2 linked regions of the Homo sapiens genome follow. The protein of the gene in region 1 interacts with the protein of each later gene in a pairwise test. Each region holds a gene or a part of one and is shown on either strand. Other genes may lie near its edges.

Region 1 (5,401 bases):
TTCTGTCTCTATGGAACATGTGCAGACTCTCTTTCTTGCCCTTATTCCCTAAACAATACATTATAACAACTATTTACATTGTATTAGGTGTTAGAAGTGATCTACAGATGAATTAAAGTATATGGGAAGATGTGTGTAGGGAACAGGCAAATAGCACGCCATTTAATATAAGGGACTTGGGCATCCACGGATTTTGGTATCTGTGAGGGATTGAGGGAGTTGGTCCTGGATCCAACCCCCTCAGATACTGACCACTGTAAGGTTCATACTTCTAAGTTTAAAATGTAACTATGTGTGAGTGAATGTGGATAGCATTTGCTAAGAAAAGCCCTGTACTTACTTGTGATATATAAAATATTCACAAGAAACTAGTACCACTGGTAGACATTGGGGAAGGTAACTGGAGTGGAAAGGAAGAAAGTAGAGTTTTCATGATTAAATATTATGTACCTTTTAAATTTGTATTAGGTATTATTTGTACTTATGTATTATTCATAAATAAATACATTCCATTTAAAAAATAAATAATGAGCTTTTATTATTCTCAACAACAGAGAAGACTCCAGCCTGATGTCTATGGGACCTGAGTCCACACTGTGGAGGGCACAAGCTGTGGGAGGGCCTGGAAGACACGCCTCAGAGATTCTCCCAGTCCTGCCACCCTGTGGGAGACACTTCAAAGGAATCGTAAACTCATGTGACCAGCAGGGAGGACAACGATGAAGAAACTTTCCTGCCTAAAATCAGCTGCTGTCCAGAGCTAGCACCTGGAAGGAGACACTCCCTCTCCTGGGGTCACATCTTCACTGCAAGGCGGGTGGGAGCTCACTGCTGTGACCCACATATACTCCTCTCTCGGCGTCTCTATCCTGCTGCTTTCTCTGACTGCATCTTCCTCTGTTCCTTGGTCAGTGTTTGAGAAGAGAATGTTGAACAAGTCACATCCTTGTCACTCTGAGTCAGAACCCTCATTTGACTTGGAAGATTTGTGCTTCCGTTTTTTCTTCTTTTTCTTTTCTTTCTTCCTTTTCTTATGCTTTTCTTTCTTCTTCTTTTTCTTGTGTTTCTCTTTACCTTCAGAGGAACTGGAGCTGCTCCTATCTTCATCTGAGGTAGAATCCTCCAGTAACTGTTTTAACTGCTGTATCCTAAACATTCAAAATTGATCAAAGAACAGTGAGTTTTAGCTTTAACTTACAACAGTTGCTTAGATAAATATGTCATTCAAAAGCAGTATAGGATGATGAATAACCATGTCACAAAGACAGTATTTTTATTTTTACCTGTTTTCTCATTCTTCTCCACCTGAATGCCTACTTTACGTGACTGAAACCAGTGTACAAGCCACTTTGTATTCTTTTTATTGTCCTAGACATTTCTGCATGTTTCCACAGTCCTTACAATTGTAATTTCTAACAGACGCATACTTTACTAAACCATTCCCCTACTGCTCAATTTCTTAATCTACATCTTTAACAGTTATAATGCCACCAATTTGAAAAAACAAACCCTCCAATTTTTTCCACCTCTCTCTAATCATGTCTAATTTTTTTCTTTTTTTTTTAGAGACAGGGTCTTCCTCTGTCACCTAGGCTGGAGTGCAGTGGTGCAATCATGGCTTACTGCAGCCTCAACCTACTGGGGTCAAGTAGATCCTCCCACCTCATCCTCCCGAGTGGCTGGAACTACAGGTGCGTGCTGCCATACTTGGCTACTTTTTATATTTTTTTGTAAAGATGGGGTTTTGCTGTATGGCCCAGGCTGGTCTCAAACGCCTGGACTTCAGCGATCCGCTGGCCTCGGCCTCCCAAAGTGTTAGGATTACAGGTGTGAGCCACTGAGCCTGGCCTAAGTATAATTTTTAACAAAAGCTCACATCCCTAAAGACTCTGGAGAAGATAAACTGAATCACATGAAAATATCAATTATACTGTACAAGTAGACAGCACAACATGGGTTGCCAACATCAACTGCAGTGGCCAGAGAGCTGGACCAAGCCCATGGCTTTAAGTTAACCCAAGGAGGAGGAGGCTGGCCTGCTCATTCCCCAACACTGGCCTTTTCAGCCATGACTCCTGCACTCCACATATTTTCACAATTGAAGTACCATGTTTACTGCACCATTCCTCTAACACTAGAGTGGTTTTCTCCAACTTTATATAATTTTAAAACTTTAAGGGGATATTGTTATCATCAGGACGACCTCACCTTACGTCCTTTTCATGTCGTTTATTGTCTCGTATGATGTCATACATGGGATCTTCATGTGCCTTAAGGGTCAGAGAAGGTTAAGGTTTGGTTAGGCTTCATGGATCACAAGTTAAATACAATGAAATGCCTATGTTATGAAAACCAGTTTATTTTTTTTTTTACTGTTTGATGTAGCTGCATGTTCAACATGTTCTAGGTCACATCACTGAAAACTCATTAAGGCTAAAAAATGGATTTTCCAATTAGAAAAATACAGGAAATGGCTACTCTCAGCACACTGTCTTTGGGGTAGCCCTGCTCTGCAGGAGCAATCACAGAGCTATAACACTGCCACCTCAAAAACAAAGAAAAATACAGGGAATAACTGTCATCTAAAGAAAAAATATACGGACACTTTAATCTTACAGTTTAAAGACATGTACTCTTTAAAGACCGGGAAATTAAATCCCTGATTTCAGTCATGAAACATGACTTTTTTACACAGTAAATTTTAAAAAGTGCGGTTGAATAGATAACAATGTCTGTTTCAGAAAAAAAATCACTGTTCCAAGTTACAAACAAAGATCACTTTAATAAGAATTCCTTTTTTTTGTAAAAGAGCTAATTTGTCATACAAATGTAATTTAATAAGCATGTAGTTAACAGCACACACTTTGGTCAAAGGGCTTCTGGGAATGTATTTTATGTGACCATTCAAGTTCACTGGTGACTTTCTGCTTCACTGATTTTCACTATCTCTGATAAATGTAAATTGACACTCTTGGACTTTACTTACCACTCTGAACTGCTCTAACTTTTGGTTGCCTTTGATAAAGAAAGGGCATTCTTTGTCACCCGTTCGGTGACCATAGCGTTTGCAACGCCAACCTAAAAACGAAAAGAGAAATATTTCTGTAAGATAACAGTTTCACCTACTCAAGATAAAGAATCAGCAGAATATATTCAAGTTTTTCTTCATTAAACTCTAATTCTAAAACAAAATATAATTATGGACAAGCCATGTAAGATCCCAGAAACAGAGGTAAACTAATTGCTTCCCCAAGCATCCTTTAGTCTTATACCTTTAGGAATAATATTCTATCACCAAGTATTTATGAAGCAATCCAATGGAGAATTACTTCAAAAGGTGAATTTTTTTTTTTGAGATGGAGTCCTGCTCTGTCGCTCAGGCTGGAGTGCAGTGGCGTGATCTCAGCTCACTGCAACCTCTGCCTCCTGGGTTCAAGATATTCTTCTATTTCAGCCTCCTGGGTAGCTGGGATTACAGGTGCGTACCACCACACCCAGCTAATTTTTGTATTTTTAGCAGAGATGGGGTTTTGCCATGTTGCCCAGGCTGGTCTTCAACTCCTGACCTCAGGTGATCCGCCCGCCTCAGCCTCCCAAAGTGCTGGGATTACAGGCGTGAGCCACCACGCCCGGCCCAAAAGGTACATTTTTTTTAAAGTGTGTTTCAGTATATTTTTCAGAGTAAATGTTTTCATAAAGTATCTCTGCTTCTCATTTACTATTTTAGACACTATAAAAGCTTCTTTCTCAGGTTGAGTCTGTTCAAAACTCTCACTTTTAAGTAAATAAAATCACAAGTTCTCTTAGAATATTAATGGTGGCTGGGCACAGTGGCTCCTACCTGTAATCCTAGCACTTTGGGAGGCAGAGGCGGGTAGATCGCTTGAGGCCAGGAGTTCGAGACTAGCTTAGGCAACATGGTGAAACCCTATCTCTACAAAAGTACAAAAAAATTAGCTAAGCCTGGTGGCGCATGCCTGTAGTCCCAGCTATCTCAGAGGCTGATGTGAGATCACCTGATTCTGGGAGGTTGAGGCTGCAGTAAGTTGTGATCACACCACTGCACTCCAGCCCGGGTGACAGAGTGAGACCCTGTTTTCCTGACCCTGGTAGAAGGTTGTTTAATGTGTGGAAAAGGTAAAACAGAGGGTCTCTGGCCAGGGAGACCAGGGAGACATCAGGTAGGTCTGAAGGAAGCTGCTGCAATAGCCACAAAGGGTCACACGAATGAATGAAAAGCAGATGGACACATTTCCAGACTCCCTCCACTCGGCTCCCAGAACACTCATAGTATGGCTTTCCCTCCACGTGGGAGCCTTCTCTGGGAAAATATAACCCACCCAAAGAAGAAAAACCGATAGATACTGAACTCTGAGGCACGTTGTCTTTGCTTTTAACAAATAATCAAGGCAATGAAGCATTCCCATCAAAATTCTCAAGGAAACTGATTTTTAAATTAGAATTCAATATCCTGGTAGTTAAAAATCTGTTAAAGACGATTCCAGAAAAGTAAAGGTCTTAACATTTTTATCTTCTATAAACCCATTTTGAAGGTAACAGCCATAGGATTTGTTACACCATAAGGAGAGAATATGATAATAAAGAAGACTCAAGACACAGGAAAATGGGTGATCCAACACGGGAGAGAGGCTAAGGGGACCTGCAGAAAGATGGTGTCTTAGTCAGCTCGGGCTGACATAACAAAATGCCGTATTCTGGGTGGCCTAAACAACAGAAACTGGTTTTCTCATTCATTCTGTAGGTTGGAAATCTGAGATCAGGGTCCCAGCAAGGTGGGTTTGTGGTGAGAGCTTTCTTCCTGGCTTAAGATGACAGCCCTCTTTCTTCTTCACATGGCACGGTGGTGGGGGGTGGGGTGGATGCTTCCTTATCTAGAAGATGGAGAACGTGCCTTGGCTGTAAGAGGGCTGTGATGAGAACAAGTTAAATAAAAGAAGTAAACACTCTTTGTAAATTGAGGCATGTAAGTTGCATGGATTAGGGAAACTCTCCCACACTCACACTGCATAACTTTGACTTCTTTCCCCAGTGGCATCCAAAGTCCTTTAGTTGGTGCATGAGCCAGAAATTCCCTGGCGTGTTCATTGCCTGGTACATCTGGTATGCAATCTTCTGGCTTAGTCTCATCTTCCTAAAAAAGGGAACAGGTATAAACAGCATGGCAAGAGCGCTGGGATTCTCTCCTGCTCCCCTTGGAGCCACCCTTGCCTGGCTTTTTCCTGGGCTTCCGGTGCCAACATCATCTTAGTTACCCCTCAAAACTAGAAAAAAAGACAAGTTACACCTGATTGAAAAAACAGGAAACAAATGTACCAGAAGAACTATACCAAAAACAATGTAGCTGTTCTTAGAGAAAAGTTACTGGTGAAGCAGAAAAATC
Region 2 (7,293 bases), on another chromosome or scaffold:
CATGGCTGTTTATTTAATTCTTTGGATTATAATATAATACTATTGTTACTTATTTTCTTGCTCCAGTTGTTTCAGTTTGGGCCATTGAGAGCTCTGTTAGATTGGCTCGTATATCCATTTAACATGCACCAACCCTGTTTTGTTTTGTTTTTTTAATGCTGCTTCTGGTCCCACAAGGTGGTCAGACTCGTCTTTTATTTTCCCTGCTGCAGCATTGGAATCAACCAGTTTTCTTAGGCACCCAGATTCCTTTCATTGGTGAATGATATTTAGAAACCACGATCTGAGCACTAAGTGTGTTCATTGCTACTAAGATATTATTACTTCTAGGTTTGGTCATTTGAATGCAAATTTATGAGTAATTGGTCATTTGCCAAGTGTTTATTTCTTCCTCATTCAAAAGTACTGTTTTTGATAGCCAATTTCATTCTTCAGTAATCTATTGTTTCTCTTTTGTTTTTACTGTCCTAGAGATTTCTTAATGTTTATTATATCAATCACCTTAGTCGCTTTATACTTTTTTCCTAAGATGAAAAAAAAAATTTTTTTTTTTTTTTTTTTTTTGAGAGGAAGGTCTCACTCTGTTGCCCAGGCTGGAGTGCAGTGGTATGATTATGTCTCACTGCAGCCTCAAACTTCTGGGTTCAAGCGATCCTCCTGCTTCGGTCTCCTGAATAGCTGGAACTACAGGCACACACCACCACACCCAGCTAATTTTTTCTTTTTTGTAGAGACAGGGTCTCTCACTCACTGTGTTGATCAGTCTGATCTTGAACTCCTGGACTCAAGCAATCCTCCCGCCTTGGCCTCCCAAAGTGCTGGGATTACAGGCATGAGCCGCCATGCCCAGCTGAAAATCACATTTATTATTCTGTCTAGATACATACAAAGATTTTATGGGATGTCAAAAAAATCTATGTAAATTTTCAGTTGAGGTTGAAACAAAAATACCAATATTATACCTTTACCTTTTATTTTATATATGTCTTGAATTTTGCATAAAGTGGAAAACAATCTTTTAGTTTGGGTTTTATTATTATTTTTTTTCAATATAAATGAATTGGGCTGGGCACAATGGCTTATGCCTGTAATCCCAACACTTTGTGGCAGGAGGATTGCTTGAGTCCAGGAGTTTGAGACCAGCATGGGCAACATAGTGAGACTTTGTCTCTAAAAAAAACCCCAAAAAACAAAGAGAAATAAATAAAAAATACACATATAAATGAAATGGTTTGTCTGTGGGTTTTTTTGTAAAATATATATTGCATAAAATTTACCATTTTAAGTGTGCAATTCAGTGTACCCTTAAATTCAGTGTGGTGAACCATCATCATTTCCAAAACTTTTTCGTTATCTCAAACAGAAACTTTGTAACCATTAAACCATTAAAGAATAATTCCCTATTCCCCTTGGCCCACAGCCCCTGGCAACCACCATTCTACTTTCTGTGTCTATGAATTTGCCTATTCTAAATGCCTCATATAAATTGAATCATATATTTGTTCCTTTGTGTCTGGCTTGTTTCACTTAGTATAATGTGTCCAAGGTTCATATATGTTGTAATATGTATCAGCACTGTATTCCTTTTTGTGGCTGAATAATTCTCTTTTGTATGTACATACCACATTTTGTTTATCCATCTGTTTGAGTATTGGGTTACTTCCACCTTTTGGCTATTGTGAATAATGCTGCTATAAACATTGGCATAGAAATACCTGGTCAAGTCCTTGTTTTTAGTTCCTTTGGGTATATACCTAGGAGTGGAATTGCTGGATCACATGGTAGGTTTATATTTAGCGTTTTGAGGAACCATGAAACTGGTTGTCACAGTGACTACACAATTTTACATTTCCTACTAGTAATGGACTTGGGTTTCAGTTTCTCCATATCCTCTCTAACATTTGTTATTTTCTTTTTTTTTTTTTTTTTTGGAAGATAGCTAGCCAGTAGGTGCAAGGTGATATCTCATTGTGATTTTGATTTGCATTTCCCTAATAACTAGTGATACCGAGCTTGGCTTTCAGTGTATTTGATTTTGATTTTTTTTTTTTTTTTTTTTTGAGACGGAGTCTCACTCTATCACCCAGCCTGGAGTGCAGTGGTGCGATCTCGGCTCACTCCAACCTCTGCCTGCGAGGTTCAAGCGATTTTTGTGCCTCAGCCTCCCAAATAGCTGGGACTACAGGTGCCTGCCACCACGCCCGGCTAATTTTTGTATTTTTAGTAGAGACGGAGTTTCACCATGTTGGCCAAGCTGGTCTCGAACTCCTGACCTGAGGTGATCCACCCGCCTCAGCCTCCCAAAGTGCTGGGATTACAGATGTGAGCCCCCGTGCCCAGCTGATTTTGATATTTTTAATGATGTGAATTTAAAATGTAACTTATACACCTGTTTAAAGTGTTTGTTGTTTTTAAGTATATTTAGACTTTTGGAGCCATCACTGTAATCTAATTTCAGAACATTTGCATTATCCAAAAAAGAAATCTTCTACCCATTAGCAGTCACTTCTCATTCCCCTGCCTTTTTCTCCTTCTACCTCTCAGCACTGAGCAGCCACTAATTTACTTGCTGTCTCTATAGATTTACCTATTCTGGACATGACCTATAAATTAGATCATATGTCATGTGGTCTTTTGTGACTGGCTTCTTTCACATAGCATAATGCTTTTGAAGTTGACCCACGGTATTGCATATACTAGTACTTCAGTCCCTTTTATTGCTGAATATCACTCTATTTATATCTACATATATTGGATGTAGATCCCTGTGGCCTTTTGCTTCTTTTTTACAGGTCTTTATAGAATCCAGTGGATATAAGGAGAGGAATTATACTCATGTCATATATCCTTTGTGATTGTCTTTTCCAAATATAAGGAGAAATTATATTCACTCTTTAGCCTCCTTCTTTATTATTTTTACTTGGATCTTATGAATTAAAACTTTGACTGAACCAGTCATTCCATTTGTTACAGAGCTTTTTTTTTCTAAAAAGCCTAGTGTATCTTTTTTTAAACAGAGCTCAAACAGGGAACTTTGAGTGTTAAAACAGAACTATAAAGAATGTGATTTTTGTCATGCACCAGACACTGAGTCCATCATACTACTTGGCATGTGTAGACTTTTTTGCTATTGTTGTTTTTGAGACAGAGCCTGGCTCTGTCGCCCAGGCTGGAGTCCAGTGGCACGATCTCGGCTCACTGCAACCTCCGCCTCCCACATTCAAGTGATTCTCCTGCCTCAGCCTCCCGAGTAGCTGGGATTACAGGCACGCAGCACTACGCCTGGCTAATTTTTGTATTTTTGGTAGAGACGGGGTTTCTGCATGTTGACCAGGCTGGTCTCAAACTCCTGACCTCAGGTGATCTACTTGCTTTGGCCTCCCAGCGTGCTGGGATTACAGGTGTGAGCCACTGTGCCCAGCTGCAGACTTTTATTCTTTTTTCACTGGCCTCACGAAAGAATTTTATTTTCTCATTTACTGTGACTCTTACAAGCCCTGATTGGATTTGACTTCCTAAAGAAATCCCTGAGAGACTTATTTTTTCCAAAACTGATTCCTTTGCCTTTTCTTTTTTTGGTGGGAAAAAACAAAACCGTTTGATCCCTTACAATCAAGAAAAAGTGTTGGCACTATTTAACTTAATTGTAAATTTGTGATGGCATATGGGATTTCAAAGTTGTCATAATTTCCACAGCATTTCAGGGTTTAAGAAAATCCTGTAAGAAAAATGACCATGTTATTTTTCCCCTTTTTTGTTAGGATGGGTAGGATCTCTCAGGTAGTAAGAAAGTCTCAGAGCTTATAACTAGTTACTAAAGAGACAGCACTGTTTAATTTCCATTCAGATGTAATCTAGTTAGTGGAGTAAAGTTTTAGAACTCTGTTTCTAACAAAAATATTTTATCTTAATTCCCTTAGGCTTTTTGGTGGGGAGTGGATTATTCTATAATTTTTTTTTTTGTCCTACATAAAATCGTTAACTTTGTCTTGTTTCACTTAGATTGCTTATGGGAGATGAACGTGTAAAGAATGGCCTTAATTTCATGTATGAAGCCCCACCAGGAGCTAAAAAAGGTACTTATCTTCTTCCGTTTCTTTTTTTCTTTCTTTTTTTTTTTTCTGAGGCACAGTCTTGCCCTGTCGTCCAGGCTGGAGTGCAGTGGTGCCATCTCAGCACACTACAACCTCCATCCACCTCCTGAGTTGGAGCAATTCTCCTGCCTCAGCCTCCCGAGTAGTTGGGATTACAGGAGCACGCCACCACGCCTGGCTAATTTTTGTATCTTTAATAGAGACAGAGTTTCACCATGTTGGCCAGGCTGGTCTTGAACTCCTGACCTCGTGATCCACCTACCTCGGCCTCCCAAAGTGCTGGGATTACAAGCGTGAGCCACCGCACCTGGCCTCCTTCCTTTTCTTTTAAGTCTTTGATGTGTTTGCAGCTAAACATGGAAAAGTACTATGACAGATATTTTTTTAAAGTTGCTCTCCATCTTTTAAAATTGCTGTTATCCTGTGAAGATAATAAAAACTATAATCATACAACAGAATAAATACTAAAAAATATCTTTCTAATCTGATAATATTTCATAATGTGCCCTTTGAGAAGGAAGAAACTTTCATGTCCAAAGTACACTTATTCTTTAATAATTTGCATATGTATCTTTAGTCCTTCTTACTAAATATTTAATGCATTTGTAAATAAAAAACATAATATTCACTGTCAATGAACAGTGAAAAGTTTAAAAACTGTGAATTAACATACTTATTAATTTTAATTTTGTATTTTGTCCTGCAATAGTCTGAATTTTTATCATGTGAAAGAAGAAAAAAAGTCAAACCAATGAATTCTTACAAGTGACAATTAAATAACATGATATCATAGTGTATACAGTAGATTTTTATATTGAAGTTTTTAACTTGTCATACCTTTTTTCTTCCATATTTTTGATATGCAATCAAGAAAACAAAGAGGTAAAGTACTATTTTCTATGTCTGAATTTACTTGCAGTTGATTGTATTATATGGAAAAATTAAAAGAATTTTCAATGAATGTTTTTAGAAAGAAGAAACAGAAGGAGAGACCGAATACAAATTTGAATGGCAGAAAGGAGCCCCACGAGAAAAGTAAGGACTGGTTTACTTTTAAGACAAGATATGTATCATTAAGTTTACATTTACTGATATCCCATCTTATGTTGCTTTTTCAATCATTAGAGGAGGCAACTGATGTGAAAAGTTATCTTTAATGATTTTAATTAGCTGTCTTATTCAACTAATCTGCTTGCTCATAGTCTTTTGTTTTATATACTTTTTCATTTTTTTAATATCACAAATTATCAGACTAGACACATAATAACTAAATGGTGTTTGGAAATACTAGATAGATTTTATAGTTCTGTATTCTTACTGAAGTAATATATTTCATAATGTTCTTAGAACTGTAAAACTATTTTTCTGATTAACTGCTGTTTAATTTTTTAAATTATTCTTAATATTGTGTTTGTACATTTCCTCTATTTAATAGATATGCCAAAGATGACATGAACATCAGAGATCAGCCCTTTGGTATTCAGGCAAGTGACACATATTTTACTCTGTAAGAATAATTTTTATTTAATAAATGTATCTTTATATTGTTGTCTAAAAGGTGTTTAAGCTGAAAAGGGGCACTATGGTTTTTATTTGTATCAGATAATATAAGGAATAGAGGAGAAAACATAAAATGTAGTAGGCTGATAAAAGACAGAAATCAGGCTGGGTGTGGTGGCTCATGCCTGTAATTTCAGCGCTTTGGGAGGCCGAGGCGGGCGGATCACAAGGTCAGGAGTTCGAGACCAGCCAGGCCGACATGGTGAAACCCTGTCTCTACTAAAAATGCAAAAAATTAGCTAGCCATGGTGGCAGGCGCCTGTAATCCCAGCTACTCAGGAGGCTGAGGCAGGAGAATCGCTGGAACCCAGGAGGTGGAGGTTGCAGTGAGCCGAGACTGCACCATTGCACTCCAGCCTGGGCAATAGAGCGAGACTCCATCTCAAAAAAAAAAAAAAAAAAAAAAAAAGACAGGAATCAAACTTTTATAGTGAGAGCTATAATGATATTGGTCTCTGCAGTTTTCAAAAAATTTGGAGAATCAGCTCAAGGTCAAGAAAAGATTTAAATCTATTATTGGTTTAGAATCGGGACAGACTATCATCAGAGGGCAAATCCTTGTAAAGAAAGTTTTATTGGAACACCGCTTTGCCTATTCATTTACTTATTGGCTGTGGCTGCTTTCCCACTGCAGCAGCAGAGTTGAGTCGTTAGAATAGACAACATCTGTCCCAAAAAGCCTAAAATATTGACTACATTTGGACCTTTACAGAAAATGTTTACCAGCTCCAGGTTTTGAAATTTGAAACTTTAAAGGTTTACTTATTAAAATGAGAGAATTTAAGCTTAAATTCTTCACATAACGCCCTAATTCTTTTTGGTATTTTACCATTTCTTTTTGGATGACATTATATTGCCACCAAGTGAGAGGCAAAAAGAAATGGGATTCAGCTTAGTTTCTAGGCAAAATTTATAGTGAAAGATTTTAGTCTTTGTATTAAATTACCAAACATAGTTTGGAGTCTTTTTCCCTGGAGATCTTTTAAAAATGTAATTTAGCTTAAATTCTATCAAGGAATAGGAATTTGAACATTGGTTAGATTCTTACTTTTTTAGTAACCAAAATCACATTCATTATTTCTCAGGTTCGAAATGTGAGGTGCATTAAATGTCACAAATGGGGTCATGTCAACACAGATCGAGAATGTCCTTTGTTTGGTCTTTCTGGAATCAATGCAAGTTCGGTTCCCACTGATGGCTCAGGTAGGCACTAGACATGATTTGTTTCGGGAGAGGACAAACAAGGAAAGATAAAACAACATTTTTCTTTACTCTTTCTGGGTATTGTTTTATTTGGGTTTGTGTGTGGGGCTTGTTTGTTTGTTTTTGACTAAGACCATTCCCAAAATATGATTAATGGGAAACTCTGATCATATATGTTGAATTAAAATGCTGTGTAATAGGATTAAGTTTAATTTTTCCAGCCAAAGGCCCTATGAACTAAGTTTTAAAGTAAAATACATTAAACATAGTTTATCAGGCTAGTAGCCTAAAAATGGAAGGAAAAAATGCTTATTTCTCATACTCATATCCTGAATTATAAAAATAGACTGTACTGAAAGCCTCAGCAGCCATCTCTTTTTAGTACAGAGGTAAAAACAAAGCTGAGTATGTTAAAATTGTTTTTTACTTAAAGTTA

The links.
Region 2: the proteins of RP9 (region 1) and CIRSR interact in a two-hybrid assay, tested with the Homo sapiens proteins (one study listed by BioGRID).

What each region holds. Positions count from the first base shown.
Region 1 is NC_000007.14:33,094,285-33,099,685, forward strand, and holds the end of RP9 (retinitis pigmentosa 9 protein), read right to left. Parts: intron 5,153-5,401; coding exon 5,023-5,152; intron 3,079-5,022; coding exon 2,987-3,078; intron 2,271-2,986; coding exon 2,209-2,270; intron 1,149-2,208; coding exon 950-1,148; 3' UTR 513-949; downstream 1-512. UniProt on the Homo sapiens protein: Is thought to be a target protein for the PIM1 kinase. May play some roles in B-cell proliferation in association with PIM1.
Region 2 is NC_000002.12:174,378,487-174,385,779, reverse strand, and holds part of CIRSR (corepressor interacting with RBPJ 1), read left to right. Parts: intron 1-4,002; coding exon 4,003-4,076; intron 4,077-4,965; coding exon 4,966-4,976; intron 4,977-5,064; coding exon 5,065-5,129; intron 5,130-5,529; coding exon 5,530-5,578; intron 5,579-6,739; coding exon 6,740-6,857; intron 6,858-7,293. UniProt on the Homo sapiens protein: May modulate splice site selection during alternative splicing of pre-mRNAs. Regulates transcription and acts as corepressor for RBPJ. Recruits RBPJ to the Sin3-histone deacetylase complex (HDAC). Required for RBPJ-mediated repression of transcription.